Linked DNA regions of Homo sapiens: all the other regions are linked to region 2. Evidence: fine-mapped expression QTL. A gene starts in region 2. Each other region holds a variant in brackets. All regions are shown on one strand. Distances are from middle to middle.

What was found.
Region 1: its variant is fine-mapped to the expression of RND1 in whole blood (TOPMed, PIP above 0.99).
Region 3: its variant is fine-mapped to the expression of RND1 in whole blood (TOPMed, PIP above 0.99). The same link has a PIP of 0.9 or more in blood mononuclear cells.

Annotation. Positions count from the first base shown.
Region 1 is chr12:48,840,012-48,850,399 of GRCh38, reverse strand. It overlaps DDX23 (DEAD-box helicase 23), which reads left to right. Exons shown (of 17, transcript NM_004818.3): 2 at 4,618-4,826; 3 at 6,350-6,460; 4 at 10,294-10,387. The coding sequence starts at 4,618. Among named protein-coding and RNA genes, the nearest start is that of DDX23, 7.0 kb to the left of the region's middle. The variant G/A (reference allele first, on the strand shown) is at 6,140.
Region 2 is chr12:48,860,592-48,870,979 of GRCh38, reverse strand. RND1 (Rho family GTPase 1) reads left to right here and starts at 5,110. Exons shown (of 5, transcript NM_014470.4): 1 at 5,110-5,332; 2 at 6,110-6,197; 3 at 8,862-8,971; 4 at 9,849-9,983. The coding sequence starts at 5,213. RefSeq lists enhancers at 4,787-4,916, 5,177-5,296.
Region 3 is chr12:49,165,278-49,175,665 of GRCh38, reverse strand. No RefSeq gene overlaps it. Among named protein-coding and RNA genes, the nearest start is that of TUBA1A, 19 kb to the left of the region's middle. RefSeq lists silencers at 2,037-2,242, 5,213-5,406. The variant TG/G (reference allele first, on the strand shown) is at 4,400.

The sequences.
Region 1 (10,388 bases), 21 kb after region 2:
AAACGTTTGATTTCCTCTTAAATCTGTTCGTTCCCTAGTCTTCTCCAGTTTGTTTGCTATGGCACCACAAACTATTAGGTTGCTGAAACTATAAATTTAGGAGCTATCTTTGTGTCTGCTCTTTCTGCTTCTTCCTTAGTAAGTCCTGTTAGCTTTGCCTCCAAAATATACTCTGACGCTGCCTACTTCTTTCCATCTCCATCGCCACGTTCCTAGAACAAGCCACTGCCATCTCTTGCCTAGAGTACCATAATAGCACTCTCAGTGGTTGTGTTTTCACTCTGTCTCTCTGCTATATATTTTCTTGCAAGTCACCAAAGTATTAGATTGCTTCCTGTTTAAAGCTCTTCTAAGATCCCCATTGCAGTTAAAATCCAAGTTAACTCTACTCTGACCTGTAACACATTTTCATTATCTGACTCCTGCCCAGCTCACTGAACTCATCCTGAATCAGTATTCCTCCTGCATTAGTGCTTCCCAGGGTCAAGAAGTCTTTCCACCTCAGCCTGGGCTCAGGTGATCCTCCCCAGGCAGGAGCGAAGGGGCATGGGCCCCATAGGTAGTATTGGCTCCTGGGGGCACAAGCCGTGTTCCTGGACGATATTTTCCTCCCAGGCCTCTGCCTATGAGCTCTTGAGCACTTTTGAGCTCAGGCATTCCACCCACCCTAGCCTCCCAAAGTGCTAGGATTACAAGTGTGAACCACCACACCTGGCTGATTTTTTTTTTTTTTTCTCTCGAGACAGAGGGAGTCTTGCTCTGTCACCCAGGCTAGTGCAGTGGCACTATCTCGGCTCACAACAACCCGCACCTCCTGGGTTCAAGCAGTTCTGCCTCAGCCTTCCGAGTATCTGGGATTACAGATGCCTGACATCACGCCTGGCTAATTTTTGTATTTTTAGTAGAGACGGGGTTTCACCCTGTTGGCCAGGCTGGTCTCGAACTCCTGACCTCATGATCTGCCTATCTCAGCCTCCCAAAGTGCTGGGATTACAGGCGTGAGCCACTGCTCCTGGCCTCCGGCTGATTTTTAACTGTTTATAAATGTAAAATTTTATTGTTCAAAATAGACGGGAAGTCTTGCTATATTACCCTGGCTGGTCTCGAACTCCTGGGCTTAAGTGATCCTCCCGCCTTGGCCTCCCAAGGTGCTGGTACTACAGGCATGAGCCACCAGGCCTGGCCAAACAAATATGTTTTTAACTGACAAACGTGTAGTTGGGCTCACACCTGTAATACCAGCACTTTGGGAGGCTGAGGCCGAAGGATCCCTTGAGCCCAGGAGTTCAAGACTAGCCTGGGCAACAAATTGAGACCTTGTCTCTAATAAAAATTTTAAGAATTAGTTGGGGCCGGGCATGGTGGCTCATGCTTGTTATCCCAGCACTTTGGGCACTCAGGGCGGATCACCTGAGGTCAGGAGTTTGAGACCAGCCTGGCCAACATGGTGAAACCCCGCCTCTACTAAAAATACAAAAATTAGCCAGGCGTGGTGTGGCACGCGCCTGTAATCCCAACTACTCAGGAGGCTGAGGCAGGAGAATCACTTGAACCTGGGAGGTGGAGGTTGTAGTGAGCCAAGATCATGCCATTGCACTCCAGCCTGGGCGACAGAGCAAGACTCCATCTCAAAAAAAAAAAAAAAAAATTAGTCAGGTGTGGTGGCATGCGCCTATAGTCCCAGCTACTTGGGAGGCCTAGGCAGGAGGATCGCTTGAGCCTGGGAAGTCAAGGCTGCAGTGTGCCGTGATTGTGCCACTGCCCTCCATCTTGCGTGAGAGGGTGAGACCCTGTCTCAACAACAACAACAACAAAACAAACCTGACAAACATGCTAAGCTAGTTCACATTTCTTGTATCTAACAAGGGTTTTTTACCCTGATCTTTTCATGGCCCTCTTTCCCATCATTCAAGTCTCAGCTTAAATGTCAACTAAAACTTCTTCCCTGAGCCATCTATCTCTTGTTATACCCCTACCCATCATATCACTGTTTTATTTTCTTCATTAGCATTCATTACTATTTAAAATCCTTTCCGCTACACTAGAATTTAAGCTTTATGAAGTAGGAGACTTTGTTTTCTTTTTTTTTTTGTTTTTTGTTTTGTTTTGTTTTTGAGACGGAGTCTCACTCTGTCACCCAGGCTGGAGTGCAGTGGCATGATCTCGGCTCACTGCAAGCTCTGCCTCCCGGGTTCACGCCATTCTCCTGCCTCAGCCTCCCGAGTAGGTGGGACTACAGGCGCCCACCACCACGCCCGGCTAATTTTTTTGTATTTTTAGTGGAGACGGGGTTTCACCCTGTTAGCCAGGATGGTCTTGATCTCCTGACCTCTTGATCTGCCCGCCTCAGCCTCCCAAAGTGCTGGGATTATAGGCGTGAGCCACCACGCCCAGCATGAGACTTTGTTTTCTTTACTGCTTTGTCTCCGTTACCTACAACAATTTCTGGCACCTTGTAGGTGCTCGGTGAATATTTGTTGAAAGAATGAATGAAATCCAGGATGCTGTACAGAGAAAATAGCCTTCCTTTGGGATTGTTTTCTTAGGGCTGTAAGTGTTTTTTTTATTTTTTATTTTTTGGTGTGTGACAGGGTTTTGCCCTGTCACCCAGACTGGGGTGCAGTGGCACAATCTCGGCTTACTGCAGCCTCTGCCTCCCGGGCTCAAGCAGTCCTTCCACCTCAGCCTCCTGGGTAGCGTGTACCACCATGCGTGGCTAATTTTTTATATTTTTAGTAGAGATGGGTTTTTGCCATATTGCCCAGGTTGGTCTCGAACTCCTGGACAAGCGATCCACCCACCTCAGCCTCCCAAAGTGCTGAGATTACAGGCATGAGCCACCACACCCAGTCAAGACATAGGTATTTCTTTCTTTTTTTTTTTTTTTGAAACGGATCACGCTCTGCTGCCAGGCTGGAGTGCAGTGGTATGATCTTGGCTCACTGCAACCTCCGCCTCCTGGGTTCAAGTGATTCTCCTGCGTCAGCCTCCTGAGTAGCTGGGACTACAGGCACGTGCCACCATGCCTGGCTAATTTTTGTATTTTTAGTAGAGATGGGGTTTCACCGTGTTGGCCAGGATGGTCTCAATCTCCTGACCTCATGATCTGCCCGCTTTGGCCTCCAAAAGTGCTAGGATTACACGGTGAGCCACCATGCCCAGCCCAAGACATAGGTATTTCTGTGTGATAGCCATGATGTACTGATACAGAACAATCAGTCATTTCTCAGGTGATTGTGAGATAAAATGGGTTGTCCTCACCTTTTGAAAGTGCTTCTTGTTCATTTTTCTTTTCTCATCTTTATACAATCTTTCTTAAGGATATATGGCAGGGAATGGCATGAGAAAGGGGCTTGTAAGCTAAAGCTTAAGGAACCATTCGAGCTGAACCATTTGGGGATAAAATAAGTTGCGAGAAATGTATCCCAAGTCTTTGGGATGATGATGAGGTGGTTGCAGATTCAGGCTTGCTGCAGTTTTAGCTCCTGGCTGAACTAGAGTTCATAGCCCAAAGAAGAGTTGACAGTGTGGGAGTGGTGTTCGGTGTCTCCCAGGTAGGAGGGAGACAGAAAAAATTCCTGCTGAAACCTTTCACAAAACTGGGTTATGCAGATGACCAAGGTTGTGAAAATCTGAATAGGGAATGTCAATCAGGACTTCTGCAACCTCTAGTTTTGGGTATTTAAAATATATATCTTTGAAATAATTATAGTTTCACAGGAAGTTAAAAAATGTGTATAGAGGTTCTGTGTACCCTTCACCAAGTTCTTCCCATTGCATAATTAGAGGTACATTTCTTTTAATCTGAGTAAAAGTGTGTTTCTCCACTTAAATTCAGGTTTTCCTTGTGGTGCTAATTATAACGTAATCCAGATCTCAAAGTTAAACTTTTTTCTCCATTGAGCTTTCTTTATGAGCTCAAGAAAATTTATCTCTCTCAGACGTATGAGTGCTAACTGATCCTAGTGGGTTGGCAGACCTAATAAACTTCAAAGTAAGCAATATAGGATGTTTCTAGAAATAGTTGGTACACTGTTCATACACTAACACTTCTTTTAATACTCTTTTGTAGTCTAATTACAAAAACATGGTATATTCACTGTACATATTTAGAAATGAATATATAAAAAGGAATCGACCAGGCACTGTGGCTCACGCCTGTAATCTCAGCCTTTTAGAGGCTGAGGCAGGAGGATTGCTTGAGGTCAGGAATTTAAGACCAGCCTGGGCAGCATAGTGAGACCCTGTCTATAAAAAAAATAAATTAGCTAGGCAAGGCAGGAGGATGGCTTGAGCCCAGGAAGTTGAAGCTGCAGTGACCTATGATTGCACCACTGCACTCCAGCCTGGGTGACAGAGTGAGACTCTGAAAGGAATTACAGGGAGACAATATAGTGAGTAACGATGGCCTGTGGAGCCAGACTGCCTGCAACTCTGCCACTACCTGTCTGCCCTCAGACAAGTTCCTTTATATACCTGAGCTCCACCGTTCTCATCTGTACGGTAGACATACTAATATATCCACCTCATAGGGTTGTTTTGAGGGTAATTGAATTATATATAAGCAGTTTAGAGCAGTGCCTAGTACATTGTAAGTACTCTTCCTACTCATTACAGATGGCAGGAGAGCTGGCTGACAAAAAGGACCGTGATGCATCACCTTCCAAGGAGGAAAGGAAGCGATCACGGACTCCTGACAGAGAGCGGGATAGAGACCGGGACCGGAAGTCTTCCCCATCTAAAGATAGAAAGCGGCATCGTTCAAGGGATAGACGTCGAGGAGGCAGCCGTTCTCGCTCTCGTTCCCGTTCCAAATCTGCAGAAAGGTAAAGTAACTTTGTATGTTATTACATGGGAAGGGAGAGTACGTTTCAGATTTCTTCCTTCTTGGTTCTTCTGATGCCTCCAGTATTAGGCATCTACTTTTTATTTTTATTTTTTGAGACAGAGTCTCGCTCTGTTTGTTACCCAGACTGGAGTGCAGTGGTGCGATCTCAGCTCACTGCAAGCTCCGCCTCGCAGGTTCACGCCATTCTCCTGCCTCTGCCTCCTGAGTGCGTAGCTGGGACTACAGGCGCCCGACACCATGCCCGGCTAATGTTTTTGTATTTTTAGTAGAGATGAGGTTTCACCGTGTTAGCCAGGATGGTCTCGATCTCCTGACGTGATCTGCCTGCTTCAGCCTCCCCAAGTGCTGAGATTATAGGCGTGAGCCACCGCGCCTGGCCTTTTTTTTTTTTTTTTTAAAAGATGGAGTTTCACTCTTGTTTCCCAGGCTGGAGTGCAATGGCACGATCTCGGCTCACTGCAACCTCTGCCTCCCAGGTTCAAGCAATTCTCCTGCCTCAGCCTCCCGAATAGCTGGGATTACAGGCATGTGCCACCACACCTGGCTAATTTTGTACTTTTAGTAGAGACGGGGTTTCTCCACGTTGGTCAGGCTGATCTCAATCTTCCGACCTCAGGTGATCCACCCACCTCAGCTTCCCAAAGTGCTGGGATTACGGGCGTGAGCCACCACGCCCGGCTAGGCATCTACTTTTTGTACATTAATCTACTCCTAGCCCAGTTGGACCTGCAGGTGTTTTCAGTTTTCCTCAGTGACCCAACTCTTAAAAGTTGAGAGGGGGCCGGGCGCGGTTGGTTCACGCCTGTAATCCCAGCACTTTGGGAGGCCGAGGCAGGTGGATCACGAGGTCAGGAGATCGAGACCATCCTGGCTAACACAGTGATACCTGATCTCTACTAAAAATAAAAAAAAAAAAAGTTGAGAGGGAACTAGTAAGGTGAAGGTCCGGGTTATCAAGGAAGGTTCATCTGTGGCCGGGCGCGGTGGCTCATACCTATAATCCCAGCACTTTGGGAGGCCGAGGTAGGTGGATTACTTGAGGTGAGGAGTTTGAGAGCAGCCTGGCCAACATGGCAAAACCCCGTCTCTACTAAAAATACAAAAATTAGCCAGGCATGGTGGTGCACATCTGTAATCCCAGCTACTCGGGAGGCTGAGGCATGACAATTCCTTGAACTCGGGAGGCAGAGGCTGCAGTGAGCCGAGATCACACCACTGCACTCCAGCCTGGGCGTGAGAGTGAGACTCCATCTCAAAAAAATAAAAAAGGAAGGTTCATCTGTTCACATA[G/A]TCCGTGACCTGTCATTGCCGTTAATATTTAACAGTACATCTCTGATCTATAAAAGCTTCTTAGAATTCCCTCGTTATTTCCGTGAGAGATACATTCTCTAATTTGTAAAACATTACTTTGGGACGAGAGTATAGGAACTTTCTCAGGGCTGCAGTGAAGCAAGATACTTTGGAAATACCAAGTGAACTCTTAAATTTGCGGTCTTCCAGAGAACGACGGCACAAAGAACGAGAACGAGATAAGGAGCGGGATCGGAATAAGAAGGACCGAGATCGAGACAAGGATGGGCACAGACGGGACAAGGACCGTAAACGATCCAGGTACATGAAGGAATGAGAGGGGGCTTTAGGGGAATGCTCCCATTTCTTCTCTGCACCTGAGTTTGCTCAGCTTCTTATGAAAGTAGATTTCTCGCCAGGCGTGGTGGCTCACGCCTGTAATCCCAGCACTTTGGGAGGCTGAGGCTGGTGGATCACGAAGTCAGGAGATCGAGACCATCCTGGCTAACATGGTGAAACCCCGTCTCTACTAAATATACAAAAAATTAGCCGGGCGTGGTGGCGGGTGCCTGTAGTCCCAGCTACTCAGGAGGCTGAGGTAGGAGAATGGCGTGAACCCGGGAGGCGGAGCCTGCAGTGAGTCGAGATCACGCCACTGCACTCCAGCCTGGGCGACAGAGCAAGACTCTGTCTCAAAAAAAAAAAAAAAAAAAGAAAGAAAGAAAGTAGATTTCTCTTAACAGATTCTGTTGGTAGTTATTACAGAGCTCTCTTTCTTATTTATTTTTATTTATTTTTTTGAGGCAGGGTCTCTTTTGCCCAGGCTGGAGTGCAGTGGTGTGATCACAACTTACTGCAGCCTTGACTCCCCCAGGCTTAGGTGATCCACCCACCTCAGCCTCCTGAGTAGCTGGACTACAGGCATCTGCCACCAGATTTTGTTTTTTTTGGGTTTTTTTTTTTTTAATTGATCATTCTTGGGTGTTTCTTGCAGAGGGGGATTTGGCAGGGTCACAGGACAATAGTGGAGGGAAGGTCAGCAGATAAACAAGTGAACAAAGGTCTCTGGTTTTCCTAGGCAGAGGACCCTGCGGCCTTCCGCAGTGTTTGTGTCCCTGGGTACTTGAGATTAGGGAGTGGTGATGACTCTTAACGAGCATGCTGCCTTCAAGCATCTGTTTAACAAAGCACATCTTGCACCACCCTTAATCCATTCAACCCTGAGTGGACACAGCACATGTTTCAGAGAGCACAGGGTTGGGGGTAAGGTCACAGATCAACAGGATCCCAAGGCAGAAGAATTTTTCTTAGTACAGAACAAAATGAAAAGTCTCCCATGTCTACCTCTTTCTACACAGACACGGCAACCATCCGATTTCTCAATCTTTTCCCCACCTTTCCCGCCTTTCTATTCCACAAAACCGCCACTGTCATCATGGTCCGTTCTCAATGAGCTGTTGAGTACACCTCCCAGACGGGGTGGTGGGCGGGCAGAGGGGCTCCTCACTTCCCAGTAGGGGCGGCCGGGCAGAGGCGCCCCTCACCTCCTGGACGGGGCGGCTGGCCGGGCGGGGGGCTGACCCCCCCACCTCCCTCCCGGACGGGGCGGCTGGCCGGGCAGAGGGGCTCCTCACTTCCCAGTAGGGGCGGCCGGGCAGAGGCGCCCCTCACCTCCTGGACGGGGCGGCTGGCCGGGCGGGGGGCTGACCCCCCCACCTCCCTCCCGGACGGGGCGGCTGGCCGGGCGGGGGGCTGACCCCCCCACCTTCCTCCCGGACGGGGTGGCTGGCCGGGCGGGGGGCTGACCCCCCTACCTCCCTCCCGGATGGGGCGGCTGGCCGGGCGGGGGGCTGACCTCCCCCACCTCCTTCCCGGACGGGGCGGCTGACTGGGCAGAGAGGCTCCTCACTTCCCAGTAGGGGCGGCCGGGCAGAGGCGCCCCTCACCTCCCGGACAGGGCGGCTGGCCGGGCCGGGGGCTGACCCCCCCACCTCCCTCCCGGATGGGCGGCTGGCCGGGTGGGGGGATGACCCCCCCACCTCCCTCCTGGACGGGGCGGCTGGCCGGGTGGGGAGCTAACCCCCCCCACCTCCCTCCCGGACGGGGTGGCTGCCGGGCGGAGACGCTCCTCACTTCCCAGACGGGGTGGCTGCCAGGCGGAGGGGCTCCTCACTTCTCAGACGATGTGGCTGCCGGGCGGAGGGGCTCCTCACTTCTCAGACGGGGCGGTTGTCAGGCAGAGGGTCTCCTCACTTCTCAGACGGGGCGGCCGGGCAGAGACGCTCCTCACATCCCAGACGGGGCGGCAGGGCAGAGGCGCTCCCCACATCTCAGACGATGGGCGGCCTGGCAGAGACGCTCCTCACTTCCTAGATGGGATGGCGGCCGGGCAGAGGCTGCAATCTCGGCACTTTGGGGGGCCAAGGCAGGCAGCTGGGAGGTGGAGGTTGTAGCGAGCCAAGATCACGCCACTGCACTCCAGCCTGGGCACCATTGAGCACTGAGTGAACGCGACTCCGTGTGCCATCCCGGCACCTCGGGAGGCCGAGGCTGGCGGATCACTCGCGGTCAGGAGCTGGAGACCAGCCCGGCCAACACAGCGAAACCCCGTCTCCACCAAAAAAATACGAAAACCAGTCAGGCGTGGCGGCGCACGCCTGCAATCGCAGGCACTCGGCAGGCTGAGGCACGAGAATCAGGCAGGGAGGTTGCAGTGAGCCGAGATGGCAGCAGTACGGTCCAGCTTTGGCTCAGCATCAGAGGGAGACCATGGAAAGAGAGGGAGAGGGAGACCGTGGGGAGAGGGGAGAGGGGAGAGGGAGCCTGAAGCTTTTCTATCTATGGATTCTTCTCTGAATCTTTGGGGGTTTTTTTGAGATGGAGTTTTTGTTCTGTTGCCCAGGCTGGAGTGCAATGGCACGATCTCGGCTCACTGCAACCTCTGCCTCTTGGGTTCAGGCAATTTTCCTGCCTCAGCCTCCCAAGTAGCTGGGAATACAGGCATGCGCCACCATGCCTGGCTAATTTTTGTATTTTTAGTAGAGACAGGGTTTCTCCATGTTGGCCAGGCTGGTCTCGAACTCTTGACCTTAGGTGATCCGGCCACCTCGGCCTCTCAAAGTGCTGGGATTACAGGCGTGAGCCATTGTGCCTGGCCTGTATACAGAGTTCTTATCAGGCCCTGAAAGTATAGGTTAGAATTCAAGGCAGAGGACAGAATGCTCCTAACAGAAACTCAGTGGGGTTGTTTGAATTATCTTGTAGATTAAGCTTAGAGCAGGTATGGGGAAAGGATTGTTGGGATTGATAGGAATGAAAAATGATGAGGGAATATAGATAGCAGTATCTTCTTGGCTTGTGGTGGTGGCCATGTAGGCTAAATTCATTGTATATTAAAGAGTTAAGGAGGGCCAGGCGCTGTGGCTCACACCTGTAATCCTAGCACTTTGGGTGGCCGAGGTGGATGTATCACCTGAGGTCAAGAGTTCGAGACCAGCCTGGCCAACATGATGAAACCTCGTCTCTACTAAAAATATAAAAATTAGCCAGTGGTGGCAGTACTCGCCTGTAGTCCCAGCTACTCAGGAGGCTGAGGCAGGAAAATTTCTTGAACCCAGGAGGCGGAGGTTGCAGTGAGCTGAGATCACACCATTGCACTCCAGCCTGGGCGACAGAGTGAGACTGTGTCTCAAAAAAAAAAAAAAAAAAAATTTTTCTCTAAACAACCACACCTGGCTAATTTTTGTGTTTTTACTAGAGACAGGGTTTTGCCATGTTGGCCAGGCTGGTCTTGAACTCCTGACCTCAGGTAACCCACCTGTCTTAGCCTCCCAAAGTGCTGGGATTATAGGCATGAGACACCGCGCCTGGCCTAGGGGAAATATTTTTGACATCAGTAGTAAAGTCCCACTTCCCAAAAGAGATTAGTCTCAAAAGGAGATTTGGGTAGAAAGGGGCCAAGACAGGGCCATAATTAGGTTTCAGAGCTGGCAGAATGACCATGCCTGCTAAGAGAGTTTCAAGACATGATAGATGACCATGGGCCAGTCTTGTTGAGTCATGGGGAAACTTCCATTCTCTTTTCGGGGCTCAACTTGAACCTCATCCAGGCACTGAAGTAAGAGTGATGTGGACCTTGTTCCTTTTCCTCAAAGCTTATCTCCTGGTCGAGGAAAAGACTTTAAATCTCGGAAGGACAGAGACTCTAAGAAGGATGAAGAGGATGAACATGGTGATAAGAAGCCTAAGG
Region 2 (10,388 bases):
CAGGCTGGTCTTGAACTTCTGAGCTCCAGCGATCTGCCTGCCTTGGCCTCCCAAAGTGTTGGATTACAGGCATGAACCACTGTGCCTACCCTAAATTCACCAGTTTGAACTATACAATTCGATGGTTTTCAGTCACTCCCCATTTCCTCCTCAACCCCACAGACCCAGGCAACTATTAGCCTACTTTCTGTCTTTTCGGATTTGCCTATTCTGGACATTTCATATAAATGGACATAGTCTATATGGTCTTTTGTGGTTGGCTTCTTCCACCTTGGCATAATGTTTTCAACTATAACCTTGTTTTAAATTTTTCTGATCTTGATAGGGAAGAGCCACCTTTCCTTTTTTCGTTTGTTTGCTTGTTTGTTTGTTTGTTTTTTTGAGACAGCATCTCCCTCGGTCGCCCAGGCTTGAGTGCAGTGGCGCAATTTCAGCTCACTGCAACCTCTGCCTCCCGAGGTTCAAGCTATTCTCCTGCCTCACCCTCCTGAGTAGCTGGGATTACAGGCACCCGCCACCAGCCTGGCTAATTTTTGTATTTTTAGTAGAGATGAGGTTTCACCATGTTGGCCAGGCTGGTCTCGAACTCCTGACCTCAAATGATCCACCCACCTTGGCCTCCCAAAGTGCTGGGATTATAGGTGTGAGCCACTGCGCCTGGCCCGGAAGAGCCACTTTAATGTATTAATCTGGCTACAGACTTTTATTTGATTTTTAAAGTTTTTTTGTAGAGATGGGGTCTCACTCTATTGCCTAAGCTGGTTTTGAACTCCTGGGCTCAAGTGATCCTCCCACCTCAGCCTCCCCAAATCCTGGGATTATAGGTGTGAGCCACAACACCTGGTCTTGGCTATGGAGTTTGAAATAAAGTTATTTAAAAGAGGTTTAAACAAATTTGGAGGAGAGAATCTAAGTGCTAAAATAATAATAATAATAATAACATCTAGGCCAACCACGCTGGCTCACGCCTGTTATCCCAGCATTTTGGGAGGCCAAGGTGGGTGGATCACCTGAGGTCACGAGTTCCAGACCAGCCTGACCAACATGGAGAAACCCCGTCTCTACTAAAAATACAAAAATTAGCTGGGTGTGATGGCACATGCCTGTAATCCCAGCTACTTGGGAGGCCGAGACAGGAGAATCGATTGAACCCGGGAGGGCGAGGTTGAGGTGAGCCAAGATCGTGCCATTGCACTCCAGCCTGGGCAACAAAAGCAAAACTCTATCTCAAAAAAATAAATAAATAAATAAACTAAATAACATCTAAAAACTTCTTCTCTAGTTAAATCCCTCACATTGCATTTAAGGAAATAGGCACCCAGAGAGGGAAGTAACTTACCCAAAGGCACACAGCTTGTTAAAGGCAGAGCGAGGTCCAAGGCCTAGACCTGCTGAACTTCAGTTCCATCCTTTTCCTGTTACCTCCCTGCCCACTGATCTAACACACACGCTTTCACACACATAACACCCTTTCCACCAAAACTCATAAACATATGACCCACAAAATATCCTTGGAGACACATCTTGGGCCTCAGCCATGGTGGAGGCTGCTCTGTATAATGGCTCGGGCCTTCTGCTACTTGACCCTGAAATGCAGCCACCCAGGGAAGAATCAGTGTTGGCACCAGCTCTCAGAATTTCTGTCTTGGAGGAGCTCAGGAATGGCAATGTTCTTAGAAGCCAGAAGAAGCTGTTTGCTTAGCAGGAACAATTTTTACTTATTCTGAAAGTTTATTTGGAGTGGTGGATGAATGGTGTGTGTAGGGGGAGGCTGGTAGAGAACATGGAGAGAAGGCTAACACCTGTGGGGTTGTGATTGGAGGGAACTCAGTTAAGGGTTAGGAGGATGTATGGGGGACTGGGTACGGTGGCTCATGCCTGTAATCCCAGCACTTTGGGAGGCCGAGGCAGGCGGATCACAAGGTCAAGAATTTGAGACCAGCCTGGCCAACATGGGGAAACGTCGTCTCTACTAAGAATACAAAAATTAGCTGGGCATCGTGGCACGTGCCTGTAATCCCAGCTACTCAGGAGGCTGAGGCAGGAGAATCGCTTGAACCCGGGAGACGGAGGTTGCAGTCAGCGGAGATTGTGCCACTGCACTCCAGCCTGAGCAACAGAGCAAGACTCTGTCTCGGAAAAAAAAAAAAAAAAAAAGAGGATGCATAGGAACTCTACTGATGCTTCCAGAACTAAGCCCAGATGAGACTGAAGGTAGGGGACAGGAGGATACAGAAGGAGAAGGTCAGGCTGAGGGAAAGGACTCCAGATTGAGGCAGTCTATGATCTTACAGCTGTTCCTGGAACTATCCCAAACCCCACTTATAGACAGCTCACAGAGGCTGTCAGGCTGCTGGAAAAGGGCAAGAAGAGGACAAATTCTATCCACAGAACATTATCTGAGGGTGGAGGATGAGGGGAGATAAAGGGCAGAAACCTTCAGAAAGCCTGGGAGAGACGGCAGCCAGCTAATGGTAACATCTGGCCTTTCCACCCTGAAGTTTCCCTCAGGCCATTCCCCATCCCTGGAAGTGAATGGAGCTTAGGACATGGGTGGAGAGCAGGTATAGGCCTTGGCCCCAGAGCCACGACGAGGTTTGACTGGAGGAACACTGGTTAGGCTGTATTCTCAAAACAACATCCACTCTCCTACTGCCTGTGGTGGGCACTAGAAATCTCATTCTTAGAGATCTGTCCCTTTGGGTCTGTGAAAGGCTTTCAAGCATCCTTTATCACAGGGAAACTATCCCTGGGTGGGGCAGCAACAACTGTGAATTAAGAGTAAAGCTCAGGCTGGGGCACAGTGGCTCACGCCTGTAACCCCAGCACTTTGGGAGGCCGAGGCAGGTGGATCACCTAAGGTTAGGAGTTTATGACCAGCCTGGCCAACATGGCGAAACCCCATCTCTACTCAAAATACAAAAATTAGCTGGGTGTGGTGGCAGGCACCTGTAATCCCAGCTACTCGGGAGGCTGAGGTAGGAGAATCGATTGAACCCGGCGGGCACAGTTTGCAGTGAGCCGAGATTGTGGCACTGCATTCCAGCCTGGGTGAAAGAGCAAGACTCTGTATAAAAAAAAAAAAAAAGTAAAGCTCAGATGAAACAAGGCCCAGGAGACACTGGGCTTGACAAGGGAAAGGGACTACTCTCAATTTTGCCCAAAGTTGGTCTTCCTTCAATCACAAATCTCCAGGAGCCCTTATTTGTACGGTCTTGATTCCTGGACAATCAGTGGTTTATTTAAGCTGTGGACAGCCCATAGTTCTGTCTAGTAGAGGCTCCCCAAAATACAGGGGCCCCATCAGTCAGGGCTGTTAAGAAGTTATGAAGCTCGGCTGGGCGCGGTGGCTCACGCCTGTAATCCCAGCACTTTGGGAGGCCGATGTGGGTGGATCACTTAAGGTCAGGAGTTTGAGACCAGCCTGACCAATATGGTGAAACCCTGTCTCTACTGAAAATACAAAAATTAGCCAGGCATGGTGACGTGCGCCTGTAGTCTCAGCTACTCGGGAGGCTGAGACAGGAGAATTGCTTGAACCCGGGAGGCAGAGGTTGCAGTGAACTGAGATCAAGCCACTGCACTCCAGCCCGGGTAACAGAGCGAGACTCCATCTCAAAAAAAAAAAAAAAAAAAATTTATGTAGTTCATCTCAACCTTAGATTGTCCTCCAGCTTCTAATCCCAAAATCCTGGGCCCAGTCTGGACTTTAACCAGGTGACACACATTAGTGCGTCAGTTTCAGTGGGCGTTAACATGGAACTGGACCTGTGCCTGATTCATCCAGGAAGCTGAGCCTAGGCCGCAGAACAAACACCCCTAAGCAGCTTCTGCTAGGCATGGGTGAGAGGCTGTCTGGCCAAACAGTGACTGTGTTTGCTTTGTCTTCTTCCTCTCTCCCACCCCCACTTGCCAGAGTCCCTCATTTCTCTCTGCCCATCACTGGGTCAGGTGCTGTGTGTTTTTTTTATGGATGACTCTAGAAAGTTTTCTCTTTCTCTTTCTCTCTCTCTGTCTTTGGTGGTGAAGGTGATTCTTGAAGAAGAGAAGGCTTTAAAAGGGGCACAGGCCGGGCACGGTGGCTGACGCCTATAATCCCAGCACTTTGGGAGGCCAAGGCGGGCGGATCGCCTGAGGTCGGGAGTTCGAGACCAGCCTGACCAACATGGAGAAACCCCGTCTCTACTAAAAATACAACATTAGCTGGGCATGGTGGTGCATGCCTGTAATCCCAGCTACTCGGGAGGCTGAGGCAGGAGAATCGCTTGAATCCGGGAGATGGAGGTTGCAGTGAGCTGAGATCGTGCCATTGCACTCCAGCCTGGGCAACAAGAGCGAAACTCCATCTCAAAATAAATAAATAAATAAATAAATAAATAAATAAATAAATAAATAAATAAATAAAAGAGGTACAGCAGGAGCTGATATTGGGAGGGGAAATAAAGGGAAGTAAGAACTGGTTTGGATGGGAATTAGAAAAAACAAAAAAGTCAGACATCAGGCCAGGCGCTGTGGCTCATGTCTGTAGTCCCAGCACTTTGGGAGGCTGAGACAGGCGGATTGCTTGAGCCCAGAAGTTCAAGACCAGCCTGGATAACATGGTGAGACCCCTGTCTCTATTTAAAACAAAAGATGTAAGGAAAAAAAAGAAAAAAAATGTCAGAGAAGTTCTGGGCCACCTCCCCCATCCCCTACTCCTCCAAAACACACACACACACACACACCTGTCTATAGTCTAAGCAGGTCCTGCTTTTGTAACCCACCCGGGACAGTCCCTGCAACTCCAGCCTGACCTCACTTCCTGCTTCCATAGCTAGTTTGTTTTTCTGACACTTATTGGTAGACACTCCAGATCATTTCATTTTGCTTCCAGTACCCTTTCCACTTCCTAATACAAATGCAAAACAACCTGGGAATCCCCTTTCAGGGGGAAACAACGGTGCAGCTTTAAGAGAAAGAGAAGGGAGGAAGGGGGCGCTGACTCAGATCCTCAGATCCATTGGCTGCTGGAGGGAATCCCACCTCAGGGATTGGGCGTAACAGAGTCCGCCTCCTCTTGTGATTGGCTCAGCCAGAAAAATAAAAGGCGGCTGTGCCGGCCTCCTCCTCAGTTGGAGGGAGGCAGGGAATCTGGCTTGATTGGCGTGCTGAGACGCACCTGGCGCAACCCTCCCTTCTGAATCGAAGTTCAAGTCCCGCGGACACTGCAACCATGAAGGAGAGACGGGCCCCCCAGCCAGTCGTGGCCAGATGTAAGCTCGTTCTGGTCGGGGACGTGCAGTGTGGGAAGACCGCGATGTTGCAAGTGTTAGCGAAGGATTGCTATCCAGAGGTGAGCTGCCCGCCCGCCCGCTGGCCGGCTTTTCTCCCTGCCTGCCCGCCTTGGGGTAGATTTCCACCTGCTCAGGAGACGTGGCTCCCCCAGCCCCAGCCCATCCTCAGCCGCTTTCTGAGGCTTTACCATCCTCAGCTGCTTTTTGGCTGGAGGACTGCCCTGCCTTAGCTTCCCCTGAGACCTGTTCCACTTCTGCCGCCCCGCTGGCTCCTCCTCACCTCTTCACCCAGAGGACCCATCAGATCCCCTCCACCTTCCTGCGTCCCTGGAGTCTGCTCTCAGGTGAGGGCACTGGAGGCATTTGAAAGTCTGGGGTTTCTTCTTGACGTAATCCCTGCCTATCCGCTCACCTGCTCCTCAAAGGCTCTATGCCTGTGCCTTCAGGCAGGCTTCTGCAGCCCCTCTGTTCACCTGGCCGGGAGGGGTTTGAGAGGAGATGAGCTAGGATTGGCTTTGGCCTGTGGCTCTCTCAAATTGGGAAACACAAATCTGGGGATGGGAGGAATCTGTGTGTGTGTGTGTCCCTGATCGCCTAGGATATGGGGGGCTTACCCCTGGTGTGGTGGTGTGGGGGGGTGTCATTCACATTTCTCACTGCTGCAGAGCAAAGTGCCTGGTCCTCCACAGTCCCTTCCCTCCTGCCCCAGGCATCTCCTCTGGTTTCTTGTCTCCTGTGACTTTACTGTCTCTCTGGTGAGTGCGTGTGTAGCCAGCACTAACCAGGGGATCTGAGGGTAGGGGTGCATGGGGTGAATGTTTCCTCTCTTTTCACAGACCTATGTGCCCACCGTGTTCGAAAATTACACAGCCTGTTTGGAGACAGAGGAACAGAGGGTGGAGCTTAGTCTCTGGGATACCTCAGGTAAGAATTCTGCTCCAAATACCCCTTTCCCACCCCTACTGGTCTGCTGTGTAGCTGCTGTCTTTTAGAAATTGTTTTCCCCTTTGGTGGGGAGAAGTGAAAAAAGAGGATCTGAAGACTCATTAGTTGTGGGGAGGGCTGACAGTTGGTGGACTCAGTTGCATGGTCCAAGGGTGCAGAGTGGGTGAACCCCAGGAGCCACTCTCTTCCCTGGGTCTGGTTCCACCCTTTAGAGGGCTGGGATGGTGAGGTGAAGGGACCCATGAATAGTCCTGGGGGTGGGCAGTAAAACAGGACTTCTCCATTTCCATTCCCTACCACCCAACATGCACGCGTACACACATGCACACACACGCGCGCGCGCGCACACACACACACACACACACACACACACACACCTTTTACTTCCCCAGAGCAAAGCCAAATAAGAGGCAAGAGGCAGTGCTGCTGGAGGCAGCGTGGTTGGGGCGGAGAGACAAGTCTGCTTTGGGGAAAGGTTGCTCAGACTCAGTTTTGTCTCCTGCATTCCATCTTGGGCCACTGCTGTCCTCCTGCCGCAGCTCAGCCCCACTCGTCACACCGCTGCAGCTCGGGGATGAAGCAATGCATCATCGATGTTTTGGAAGTTGGGGGAGATGGCTTAATATAGGGCATAGTCAGTTGTGAATAGTGGCCGGCAGGGCAGAGGGGAGGTTGGCTCTGACTGTTTTCCCTCTACTGGGGTGAGGTAGAATATGCCCTGTCTCTCTAGAATGTAGAAACAATGTTTTTCCAGCCTCTCAGCCCCAAGCCCTTAGTGCTAGGCTATCCTTTGCCTTGATTCTGACCCCTTCCCATTATCTCTTTACCCCAGACCTTTTTCAATAGACTGGCTCAGAGTCATAATTAAGGAGTAAAAGCCGGGAATAAGAGAAAGAAAATAAAATCCACCCCTCCCCAAAAATGCATATTCAGGCTGAGTTTAAAAAGGGACCGTAAATCACTAGGTGTTTCCTGCTACATATAATAAATATGCTGTCCTGCTCCTTCAACAGCTGTTGTTCCCATGCTCTAATTCTGAGGTCTGAAAAGATTGGGGCTAGGGAATGGTTAGACAGACAATGAGCCTTTCCTCCCCAAACAAAAATTCCCCAATCTGGTATGCTTTTCCCTGTTGCAGTTTCAGGGCTTGGGAGGCAGCGTTCTGGTTCTCCTGGGCTGTGCTATGCTGGCAAGATTGGGCTAGAATGCAGCTTGATGGCATGATGTATAATTTTTGGTTTTTCATCTGCTGTACCCTCCCACCTTCCAATCTTCCCAGAATCTTACTGCAGCTCATCTCTTTTCACTACCACCGCCCAAACGCCCTCCCCCCACCTCCTCCCTCCTTTGACAGTCAGAATGCAGCCCTCAAATCCCAAACCAGATCATGGAAAATCAGCAAGTGTAGTCTCTGTTCCCTGTGTCACACCCCCACCCCCAATTTCCGAAAGGATAAAGGCTGTCAGTTATTCTCAAACTCCCTCTTTCAGATTAGGTTCCCATAAGGAAGGAGGAAGTGGCCATGGTGTGTGGGATAGGGTTTCCCAATGTTGGGCTCAGGGTTGACCCTGTTCCCATTATTTACTTGCTAGTCTTAGGGGAGGGGGATTGCTTGGAGCCAAAATGGAGGCCTCCTCCCCTCCCCCTTCCCCAGTGCTGCAGTGCTTCCGCTCCTCAGTGCTGCAGTGGTAAGACCCCACCTCAGAAAGGGATGGAGGAGGCTTGCTGAAGGAGCAGGCAGCTATCCCAACTCCCCTGTATTCCTTTTTTTAATGACCAACATCCCCCCACCAGCTTGGATTCCCCCCAGTTTCCATGGCGATTGTGGTGCAGGGAGAGGGGCTGCTTGCTATTCTGAGCACGGATTGTCTGGGTTCCAAATCCGCTACTGCTCCTTCCCCAGGGTGGAGGGGGCAGGCTCAGCTCCTAGCATTCTCCCATATGGGACCACCTGGGTCTGCATTGCCTATTTCCCTTCCAACGAAGGACTCTTGCTCTAGCCTCTAAATCCCCAGCCATCGGTGCTGCTGTCTTTGAGACTGCCTTCCTGAGATGTGGGGCGGTCAGGAGGTACAGCTTTCCTTTTGCCCTTTTCAGTGTAAGCCGATCTGGGTGGGTGGAGAAGTGGGGCACTGAACCCTTGATTCTCTCCCTCCCCTGCTAGCCTCCTAAAGTTCTGACCCCATGGAAAAGCAGCAGGCAGGTTATGTAACAAGGAGGTTTTTCTCTTCACTGGGGAGACCCTGGAGCAGAAGGGAGTGAAGTTGGGCAGCAGGCAGGCTCTAGAAGAGAGAAGCCCTGAAATAAGTGCTGTCTCTCTGCAGGGCTGGAAGCATCTTCTGGGACTCAGAAAACTAGTAGATCTCCAATTAAGCCTGCTGTAGGAGACCCAAACAGGGCCAAATTATACTCCACCCACTTTATTTTGTCTTCTTTCCCTTTTTCTGGACTAAGGGGGATGATATTCTTTCATGACCTTCTGGCAGACAGTCAGGTCCCAAGCTTCCAGCCGCAGTACATTCCCCCTGGGAGATGGGTGGATCCTCAGGGATTGAGGATGGTATTCCCAGGGCTTTAGGGCTTAGGCCTATTGGGGAAGGAAAACACCATGGCTCACCATCAGCTCTTTCTGGCCTACACCAGGATCTCCCTACTACGATAATGTCCGTCCACTCTGCTACAGCGACTCGGATGCAGTATTACTATGTTTTGACATCAGCCGTCCAGAGACAGTGGACAGCGCACTCAAGAAGGTAAGACTAGATCAACTCTCTAATCTCTAACTCAGCATGAGGACCAAGAAGGAATCGGGACCTTGTCATGAATGCCCTCTTGTATAACATCAAGAAATGGAAGCCAGGGAAGGAAGAGATTTGCCCAAGGCCACACCATTAGCTACAGCTCTGGGACTGGAACTTGGGTCTCCTTACCCCACTGCCTCCCGCCCTTTTTGTTATCCCATGCTGCCTTGCCAGAGGCCCCGCAAGGGAGGGTGGTATTGAAGACTCAGGAAGCAGAGGACGGAGAGTCAGAGAACCTTTAGGTGATACGGTATGAGGGTCAGGCATGGGACCTTTTGGAGGCAGCTTCTATAGACCCTGATCCCAGTCCCACTGAGAATGGGCAAGCCAGGCAGGTCTGAGCTGAGCTGCTGGTATGAAATGCTTAGGTCTGGGCAGATCCACCAATGCTGAGGAGTCCTAGGAAACCTTGTGTATCTAGCATAGTATAGAAGATGCTGGGATCATGTTCTTCCCTTGAGAAGAGACTGGTTGGCTTCCCCCTGGCATTCTGGACTTGTGAGGCCCTTTGGGGTGAGGGGGCAGATCCATGCCTATATGGTTGGCAGAGAGTGGGAGGAGAATTGCCCTTGTGCCCTCTCTGGTGACTGAGCCATAGACTGGGGGAACAGGCTCCTGGGTCAGCACTCTGGGGGCCCCAAAGGCCTCATGGGCAGGAAAATGATGTAATTAGTGCAACGGTGATGCTGTGACTCAGAGGGAGGACTGGGCTGGTGATGAGTGAGGTGATGTGTGTGACGTTGCCAGCCAAGCTTCTCCTGGTATCTGTCTGCCACTAACTCTCCTTCCTTCCTCCTTCTCCTACCCTTCTTCCTGCTCCACCCCTCAGTGGAGGACAGAAATCCTAGATTATTGTCCCAGCACCCGCGTTTTGCTCATTGGCTGCAAGACAGACCTGCGAACAGACCTGAGTACTCTGATGGAGCTGTCCCACCAGAAGCAGGCGCCCATCTCCTATGAGCAGGTGTGTGCGCATGCAAGTGCATGTCGTGGGGTGGAGTGAGGAAGGCTAGAGGCAGACAGCTTGAAATATGGCCCTGGCTCAAATTCTTCCACTATGGCAAGAGAGAATTGCTGTTATAATTAGCAAATGAGTCACCTGGAGAGAGGTGGTGGGCACCTGCTTACCCAGATGTATGCTGTCAGTTAGCAGGTGAGTTATTCCTGTGTGTGCCCACATTTCTAAGATTGTATTCTGACCACCTGCGTTAGAATCATTAGAGGTGTTTGTTAGAATTTCACACACACAAAAAAAAGAGGCCAGGTGCAAGGTGGCTCATGCCTGTAATTCCAGAACTTTGGGAGGCTGAGGCAGGAGGATAGCTTGAGCCCAGGAGTTTGAGATAAGCCTGGGCAACAAAGCAAGACT
Region 3 (10,388 bases), 300 kb before region 2:
CTATAATGGAAATAGATGCCTAAGATAAAAAAAATCAGATAATTTATTGGACCATCTTTCCACTGCTCTGAAGAAAGTGGGTAGTATTTGAGCGCTAGGCCAAAAGTTTTCACTTAAATATATACATATGAACATGTAAAAATATATACACAAAAATTATATAAAGAAAAGTGAACAAAAGTAGATCCAAAGTTCTATATTTGGTCAAGATATAGTTTTGTACATGAACCAAGTGGATGGATTCACTTACCATAAATGGTGCAGCCAATGTGGAAGTGAGTGTGATTTGCAGTTGAGTTAGGACATACCTGGTAGAGTGGATCAAAATTGACTGAGGCGGCTGGGCGTGGTCGCTAATGCCTGTAGTCCCAGCACTTTGGGAGGCCAAGGGAGGCGGATCACCTGAGGGTGGGAGTTCGAGACCGGCCTGACCAACATGGAGAAACCTCGTCTCTACTAAAAATACAAAATTAGCCAGGCGTGGTGGCACATGCCTATAATCCCAGCTACTCAGGAGACTGAGGAAGGAGAATCACTTGAATCTGGGAGGCAGAGGTTGCGGTGAGCCAAGATCACGCCATTGCACTCCAGCCTGGGCAATAAGAGCAAAACTCCGTCTCAAAAAAAAAAAAAAAATTGACTGAGGCAGGGTGCAGTGGCTCATGCCTGTAATCCCAGCACTTTGGGAGGCCTTATCTCTAAAAAAAAAAAAACAAAAAAACTTTTTTTTTTTGTTTTTTGTTTTTTTAAGACAGTCTCTGTCGCCAGGTTAGAGTGCAGTGGTGCGATCTCGACTCACAGCAACCTCCGCCTGCTGGGTTCAAGCGATTCTCCTGGCTCAGCCTCCCAAGTAGCTGGGACCACAGGCGCATGCCACCATGCCCAGCTAATTTTTGTATTTTTAGTAGAGACAGTGTTTCAGCATGTTGGCCAGGAGGGTCTCGATCTCTCGACCTCGTGATCCACCCACCTTAGTCTCCCAAAGTGCTGGGATTAGAGGCATAAGCCACCGAGCCTGGCCTGTAATTTTATTTTAGTAGAAACTGGGTTTCACCATGTCTGCCAGGCTAGTCTTGAACTCCTGGCCTCAAGTGATTCACCTGCCTTGGCCTCCCAAAGTGCTGGTATTACAAGCGTGAGCCAATGTGCCCAGTCAAAACAATTTTTTTTAATTAGCTGGGCGTGGTGGCGCAGCCCTGTAGTCCTAGCTACTTAGGTGGCCAAGGCAGGAGGATCCCTTGAGCTCAGGAGTGCAAGGCTGCAGTGAGCTGTGATCATATCACTGCACTCCAGCCTAGACGACAGAGCAAGACCCTGTCTCAAAAAAAACCACAAAAAACAAAAACAAAAAAACCCTGAGACATAGGGCAGGCTTCCATCTAGTAAATGGAGTAAGGAGGTAGGAAACAGCTGTAGAAAGAAAATGACACTTGCCGTGGACAGTAGCACATGCCTGTAATATCAACATTTTGGGAGGCTGAGGCAGGAGTATCGCTTGAGGCCAGGAGTTTGAGACCAGCCTGCACAACATAACACGACCCAGTCTCTCTTAAAAAAAAGAAAAAAGAAAAAAGAAAAATTTAATTAGCTGTGTGCAGTGGCAGTGCCTGGAGTCCCAGACACTCAGGAAGCTGAGACAGGAAGATCTCTTGAGCCTGGGAGATCAAGGTGCAGTGAGCTATGATTGGCCACTGTATTCCAGCCTGGGCAACAGAGCAAGACTCTGTCTCAAAAAAAAAAAAAAAGAAAAAAAGAAAAGAAAAGAAAATGAGAATGACAGTAACATACCACCATTTCCAATCCAGCATCAGAAGTAATGAATCAAAAGGTCCAGTATAAAGTTGGGCTCAGTGGCTCACACTTGTAATCCCAGCATTTTGGAAGGCTGAGGTAGGAGTATCACTTGGGCCAGGAGTTTGAGACAAGCCTGGGCAACATGGCGAGACCCTGTCTCTACAAAAAATAAATCAGCTGAGTGTGGTGGCCAATGTCTGTAGTCCCAGCTACTCAGGAGGCTGAGGCAGGAAGATCACTTGAGCCTAGGTGGTCAAGGCTGCAGTGAGCCATGATCACATCATTGCACTTCATCTTGGGTGATAGAGAGGAGACCCTATCTTTAAAAAAAATTAAATGAGGCCAGGCAGGGTGGCTTACGCCTGTAATCCTAGCACTTTGGGAGGCCAAGGCGGGCAGATCACAAGGTCAGGAGATAGATACCATCCTGGCTAACATGGTGAAACCCTGTCTCTACTAAAAATACAAAATATCAGCTGGGCGTTGTGGCACATGCCTGTAGTCCCAGCTACTCAGGAGACTGAGGCAGGAGAATCGCTTGAACCTGGGAGGCGGAGGTTGCAGTAAGCCAAGATCGCACCACTGCACTCCAGCCTGGACAACAGAACAAAAATCCGTCTCAAAAAAAAAATTAAATGAATAAAATAAAAATTAAAAGAAAGTCCAATGTAATAAGACGAAGAGGAGCTAACCCTAGAGAAAGGAGCTTAAAGAGATCAGGCCAGGTATCCAAGAAATAACACAAGGGGAAAACATCAGGGACCTAGGCAGAGGCCTGGTAGGCAGACTGACTGGCTCCCATGTTAGGGATTATATAAGGAAACAACAGCTCAATGCACCTTTGGGTGTTGGGTGTCCAGGATATTGAAGGCCAGATATTTAAGGTCTTTTTGCCTGTTGGTCAGAAACCTCCCACAATTCCTTGCCGCAAGGGCCTCTCCAAAGAGTAGCAGACAGCAAATGGCTTCCCTCAGGACAAGTGAGCAAGACAGCAAGAGAGAGCTGCCAAGATGAAAGTCACAGTCTTTTTGTAATGTAATATCGGAAGTGACATCTCATCACTTTTGCTGTAGCTAATAAGAAGTGAATCACGCATGGCCGGGTACGGTGGCTTACGCCTATAATCTCAGCACTTTGGGAGGCCGAGGCAGGTGGATCACCTGAGGTCAGGAGTTAGAGACCAGTCTGGCCAACATAGTGAAACCCTGTCTCTACTAAAATTACAAAAATTAGCCAGGCGTGGTAGCACAGGCCTGTAATCCCAGCTACTCAGGAGTCTGAGGCAGGAGAATCACTGGAACCCGGGAGGCGGAGGTTGCAATAAGCCAAGACTGCGCCATTGCACTCCAGCCTGGGCAACAAGAGTGAAACTCTGTCTCAAAAAATAATAATAACAATAATAATAATAATGAGAATTTAACCAATAAGTACATATGATTACATAGATTCTGTAATTCTTAGAAAAATCACAGATCCTGGATCTAGTTTTCTCTTCTCAGGCTTGCAAATTATAAATAAATAAAAGAAGTGCCTCTAAAAGATTCATAACCAAACATAATGCCAAGTCTTGTTTTTCTACAATATATAGTATCTCTATTTACATAAAATTATATATGTGTATATGCCTAGAGAGATGTCTAATAGGATCTTTATCAAATATTAAGAGTATTGGCCAGGCTTGGTGGCTCGCGCCTGAATCCTAGCACTTTAGGATGCCAAAGCAGGTGTATCACTTGAGGCCAGGAGTTTGAGACCAGCCTGGGCAACATAGCGAAACCCTGACTCTATAAAAAATACAAAAATTAGCCAGGCGTGGTGGCATGTGCCTGTAGCCCCAGCTACTAAGGAGGCTGAGGTGGGAGGATCTGTTGAGCCAGGAGGTGGAGGCTGCAGTGAGCTGTGATAGTGCTACTGCACTCCAGCTTAGGCAACAGAGAAAGATAAAAAACAAAAAAATTGGAGCTGATTGCTTAAGAAGTTATTTTTCCCTGAAGTACTGGCATTTAAACAGGGAATTTTTAGAAACTAAAGATTCAACTTTTAAAGAAATCTCCAGGAAGAGAATTTCAAGCACCATCTGAGCAAAGATGCTATTTTGGGTAGCTATTTTAAGTATCCTGAGCCGTTAAAATCAGTGCACAGTGATAGGCTAATAGTCACTCTTCCTACCTGAAGGCTAACTCAGTCCCTCACACTTTATCACTTGATTTTTCTTTTCCTAATATAACAGGTTTGTTGAAATATAATTCACATACTGTCCAATTCACCCATTTAAAGTATACAATTCAAGGCCAGGCGAGGTGGCTCATGCCTGTAATCCTAGCACTTTGGGAGGCCGAGGTGGGTGGATCACCTGAGGTCAGGAGTTTGAGACCAGCCTGGCCAACATAGTGAAACCCCAACTCTACTAATAATACAAAAATTAGCAGGGCATGGTGGCGCATGCCTATAATCCCAGCTACTCGGGAGGCTGAGTTGGAAGAATCGCTTGAATCCGGGAGGTGGAAGTTGCAGTGAGCTGAGATCACACCACTGCACTCCAGCCTGGGTGACAGATACTCCATCTCAAAAAAATAAAAATAAAAATAAAAAAGTAAAAAAAAAA[TG/G]TTTTAAAAAAGTATACAATTCAATGGCTTTTAGTATATTAAGAGGTGTGTGATCACCACAATTTTAGAACATTTTCATCACCCCCCAAAAAAACTCTGTAACCTAGGCAACCACTATCTCCAGGCAACCACTAATCTAGTTTCTGTCTCTGCATATTTCCCTATTCTGGACATTTAATGTAGAAGGAAGCATACAATATGCAGGCATTCATAACTGGCTTCTTTCTTTCTTCTTTTCCTAATCCATTCAAGTACATCTATTTTGGAAATATTTCCATTTCAATGATCCAAATTGTGATGAGGAACACCACCAGGGCATGAAATTTTAGAATATAGCAATCTCTTTGTATTATTAATTGATATACACGCCATAAAATATACACACCATAAAATTCACCCTTTATAATTTTAAAGTCTCTAGTATATTCACCAGCTTGTGCAATATCTGTCCTTTTAAATTTTTATATTTGTCTGTTCACTAGTTCCAGAATTTAATTTTGTCATTCATCAAAAGCTCAAACTGTGCACTCATTAGCAGTCACTCCCCATTATCTCCTTCCTTGTACTAGCTCATGGCAAACACAGTAATCTACTTTCTGTCCCTATGAATTTGCCTATTCCGGACATTTTATACAAATAGAATCATGTAATATAGGGCTTCGTTATCTTAACACAAAGTTTTCTTTTTTTTTTTTTTTTGAGATGGAGTCTTGCTCTGTCACCAAGGCTGGAGTGCAATTGCATGATCTCAGCTCACTGCAACCTCTGCCTCTGAGGTTCAAGCAATTCTCCAACCTCAGCCTCCCAAGGAGCTGGGATTACAGGGACGTGCCACCATGCCCAGCTAATTTTTGTATTTCTCGTAGAGATGGAGTTTCACCATATTGGCCAGGCTGGTCTAGAACTCCTGACCTCAGGTGATCTGCCTGCCTCGGCTTCCCATAGTGCTAGGATTACAGGGGCCACTGTGCCAGGCCGAGCACAATGTTTTCAAGGTTCATCTATATTGTAGAATGTATCAGTACTTCCTTTCTTTTCTGGGGGAGCGGGGTGTGGAACGGAGTCTTGCTCTGTCACCCAGGCTGGAGTGTAGTGGCGGAATCTTGGCTCACTGCAACCTCCGCCTCCTGGGTTCAAGCAATTCTTCTGCCTCAGCCACCTGAGTAGCTGGGACTACAGGCATGCGCCACCATGCCAGGCTAACTTTTGTATTTTTAGTAGAGACTGCCTTTCACCATATTGGCCAGGCTGGTCTCAAACTCCTGACCTCGTGATCCACCTGCCTCCGCCTCCCAAAGTGCTAGGATTACAGGTGTGAGCCACTGTGCCTGGCCAGTACTTCTTCTTATTGCCAAATAATATTCCATTATAGGGATATACATTTTCTTTATTAATTGATGGGTTGTTTACATTTTTTGGCTATTATGAATAATACTGCTGTTAACTTTTGTGTACACGTTTTTGTGCAGTCATATATTTTCATTTCTCTTGAGTATACACCTAGAAGTGGAATTGCTGGGTCTTACTATAGATCTGTTTAATATTTCATGGAACTGCCAAGATATTTTCCCAAGTGGTTATATCATTTACATTCCTACTAGTAGTGTAAGAAGGTCCAATTTTTCCACATCCTTACTAAGACTTGTTATTTTCTGTCTTCTTTTATTATAGCCATCCTAGTGGGTGTGAAGTGGTATCTCACTGGGGTTTTGATTTGCATTTTCTGATGGCTAAAGACTTGAGTACCTTCTCATGTGCTTATTGGCCATTTGGGTATCTTCTTTGGAGAAGTCTACATTTAGAGCCTTTGCCCATTTAAAATTTTTATTTTATTTTTTAAATAGAGATGGGGTCTTGGCCAGGCGTGGTGGCTCATGTCTGTAATCCCAGCATTTTGAGACCCCGAGGCGGGCAGATCACCTGAGGTCAGGAGTTCGAGACCAGCCTGGCCAATATGGTGAAACTCCAGTCTCTACTAAAATACAAAAATTAGCTGGGTGTAGCAGCGTGCACTAGTAATCCCAGCTACTCGGGAGGCTGAGGCACAAGAATTTCTTGAGCCCAGGACAGGGAAGTTGCAGGTTGCAGTGAGCTGAGATTGCACCACTGCACTCCAGCCTGGGTGACAGAGTGAGACTCTGTCTCAAAAAAAAAAAAGAGATGGAGTTTCACTATGTTGCCCAGGATGGCCTCAAACTCCTGGGCTCAAGTGATCCTCCTGCCTCAGCCTCCCAAGTGCTAGGATTACAGACGTGAACCACTGCACCCAGCCTAAAATTTTATTATTCGTCTTTTTATTACTGAGTTGTAAGAGTTCTTTATATGTTCTAGATACAAGTATCTTATATATGTATAGAGAAAAATTCTCTTCAAACTGTTTTTCCTCTACTCTCAAACCACAACAATCATCAAACAGAAGACAACTTCTGTGACCAAATGTGTGGAGGATTTCTCCACACACCAAGTAGCAGATACCAGCTGGGTGTCCTCTAATTCAGTTCCTATATTATCACTCAGAGATAGTGTCAGATCCCACAGGTTGAGGGTTCAGTCCCCAAGACTGCCCCAGCCCCCGACTCTAACCCCACACACACCAGTCACAAGTTCAGCCCCCGGGACTTCTGACCGACTGGTTTCAAGTTGACGCTCCCATGACCCCTTCTTTGGGTTCGATTAGTTTGCTGGAGCAGCTCACAACACTCAGGGAGACACATTCACCAGTTTATTATAAAAGATATTGCAAAGGATACCGATAAAAAGAATAGGTAGGGTGAGGTATGGGGGAAGGGGTGTGGAGCTTCCATCCCCTCCCTGGGCGCACCACCCTCCAGTAACCTCCATGTGTTCAGCTGTCTGGAAGCTCACTGAGCCCTGTCATCTTGGGTTTTTACAGAAGCTTAAAGACATCAGCATTCCTTCTCCCAGGTTATAGGGTGGGACACTCTCATGGGAGGGTATTAAGACCTACAATCAGAAAGGTCGGGAAAGATTAGGCTGGACCTGGTGGCTCACGCCTGTAATCCCAACACTTTGGGAGACTGAGGTGGGCAGATCACCTGAGGCCAGGAGTTCGAGACCAGCCTGGCCAACACAGTGAAACCCCCATCTCTAATTAAAAAAACACATACAAAATTAGCCAGGCGTGGTGGCGCGTGCCTGTAATCCCAGCTACTCGGGAGGCTAAGGCAGGAGAATTGCTTGAATCCAGGAGCCAGAGGTTGCAGTGAGCCGAGATCACAACACTGCACTCCAGCCTGGATGACAGAGTGAGAACCTATCTTAAAATAAAAAAGAAAGAAAGAAAAAAAGGTCGGGGAAGATTAGCATGAACAGAGGGCAGGAGAACATCAGATGCCTGCCCTGAGGCTCAACACACCCAACATTCTAACAAAAGACTGTAAAGAGGGATATGGAAGTTATGAGCCAAGAACCATAGATGAAAACCAATATATAACACTACAGATATATGATTTGCAAATATTTTCTTCATTTTGTGGGTTGTCTTTTTACTTTCTTGATAGTGTGTCTTTTGAAGCAAAGAAGTTTTTAATTGTGATGAGGTCAAATGTATCTATTTTTTCTTTTGTTACTTATGCTTTTGGTGTCATACCTAAGAAGCCTTTGCCTAACTTAGCGTCATTAAGATTTACTTCTAGGCTGGGCGTGGTGGCTCACGCCTGTAATCCCAGCACTTTGGGAGGCCAAGGCGGGCAGATCACCTGAGGTCAGGAGCTCGAGACCAGTCTGGACAATATGGTGAAACCTCATCTCTATTAAAAATACAAAAATAGGCTGGGTGCAGTGGCTCACACCTGTATTCCCAGCACTTTGGGAGGCCGAGGTGGGCAGATCACAAGGTCAGGAGTTCAAGACAAGCCTGGTCAACATAGTGAAACCCTGTCTCTACTAAAAATACAAAAATTAGCTGGGCATGGTGGTGCGCACCTGTAGTCCCAGCTACTCGGGAGGCTGAGGCAGAAGAATCACTTGAACCCGGGAGGTATAGGTTGCAGTGAGCCGAGACTGTGCCACTGCACTCCAGCTTGGGCAACAGAGTGAGACTTCATCTCAAAAAAAAAAAAATAAAACTAAAAATATATACAAAAATAAGCCAGGCGTGGTGGCATGCGCCTGTAATCCCAGTTACTCAGGAGGCTGAGGCAGGAGAATCGCTTGAACCCGGGAGGCAGAGGTTGCAGTGAGCTGGAGATCACGCCATTGTACTCCAACCTGGGCATCAAGAGTGAAACTCCGGTCTCAAAAAAAAAAAAAAAGGATCACTTTTAAAAAGAGACAGCAAGAATAGAACAAGGAAAGCAGTAAGAAGTAGATTATTTTAGTGTCTGAGAGAAAGATGGCAGACATTCAGGTTATGTTTTGTTAAGTAGAGCTGACAAGATTTGCTGATGCGTTAGATGATAAATATTAGAGCAGGAGAGTGAGAGAGAGAAGTCAAGGATAACTCAGAGGTCTTTGGGCTAAGCAACTGGGTGAATAAAGGTAACATTTACTCAGATGGAGAATCCTGGGAGAAGAAAGGAGTGGTCTGTATGTGAGTGTGTGGACTGGAGTGGAGTAGAATTCAAGAGTTCTGTTTTGGACATGATAAATTTAGGATGCCTATTAGGCATCCAATCAGAGATGTAGAGTAGGCATGTGGATATGTGTTTCAGAAAATAGGCCTGGGTAGAAGATACAAATTTGGGAGCTACCAGTATATAGATATTTAAAGTCATGAGACTAGATGATTGTACATCTTTTCTTTTTTTTTTTTTTGAGATTGAGTTTTGCTCTGTCGCCCAGGCTGGAGTGCAGTGGCGCCATCTCGGCTCACTGCAAGCTCTGCCTTCCGGGTTCATGCCATTCTCCTGCCTCAGCCTCCCGAGTAGTTGGGACTACAGGCGTCCGCCAACACGCCTGGCTATTTTTTTTGTATTTTTAATAGAGACGGGGTTTCGCTGTGTTAGCCAGGATGGTCTCGATCTCCTGACCTCGTGATCCACCCACCTCGGCCTCCCATAGTGCTGGGATTACAGGTGTGAGCCACTGCGCCCAGCTGAGTGTACATATTTTCTTATGAAATTGGATTATGTGACCATATCTCTTTTTTTTTTTTTTTTTTTAGATGGAGTCTCACTCTGTGGCCCAAGCTGGAGTACAGTGGCTCAACCTCGGCTCACTGCAGCCTCTGCCTCCCGGGTTAAAGCAATTCTCCTGCCTCAGCCTCCTGAGTAGCTGGCACCTGTAGGTGCCTGCCACCATGCCTGGCTAATTTTTGTACTTTTAGTAGAAACAGGTTTTCACCATGTTGGCCAAGCTGGTCTCAAACTCCTGACCACAAGTGATTCACTTGCCTTGGCCTCCCAAAGTGCTGGGATTACAGGCATGAGCCACCATGTCCGGGCTATGTGACCATTTCTCTGTATCAGTGTTCTTTACATTTTTGCTTATCACCTAAAAAAAAGAAATTAAACTATGTAACTCCAGTCATTTTTAAGTTGATATCTAAAATTCTTCAAGTTAAGTTTAAATACGGTAAAAGCTGAGGCAGGAGGATCACTTGAGGCCAGGAGTTGAAGACCAGCTGAGACTACATCTCTACAAAATGTAAGAAAACAAGTAGCTTTGCCTGTCTTCCCAGCTACTCAGGAGGCTGAGGTGGGAGGACCTCTTGAGCCCAGGATATATATGTGTGTATATATATATATACACACACATATATGTATATGTGTGGAGATATATACATACGTAGTGTAAAATAATGTAATTTTAAGCATATTGTGGCCAGGCATGGTGGCTCCCACCTGTAATCCCAGCACTTTGTGAGGTCAAGGTGGTAGGATTACTTGAGCCCAGGAGTTTGAGACCAGCCTGGGCAACACAGCAAGACCCCGTATCTACAAAAAAATTTAAAATTAGCTGGGCATGGTGGCATGCATCTGTAGTCCCAGTTACTCAGGAGACTGAGGTAGGAGGATTGCTTAAGCC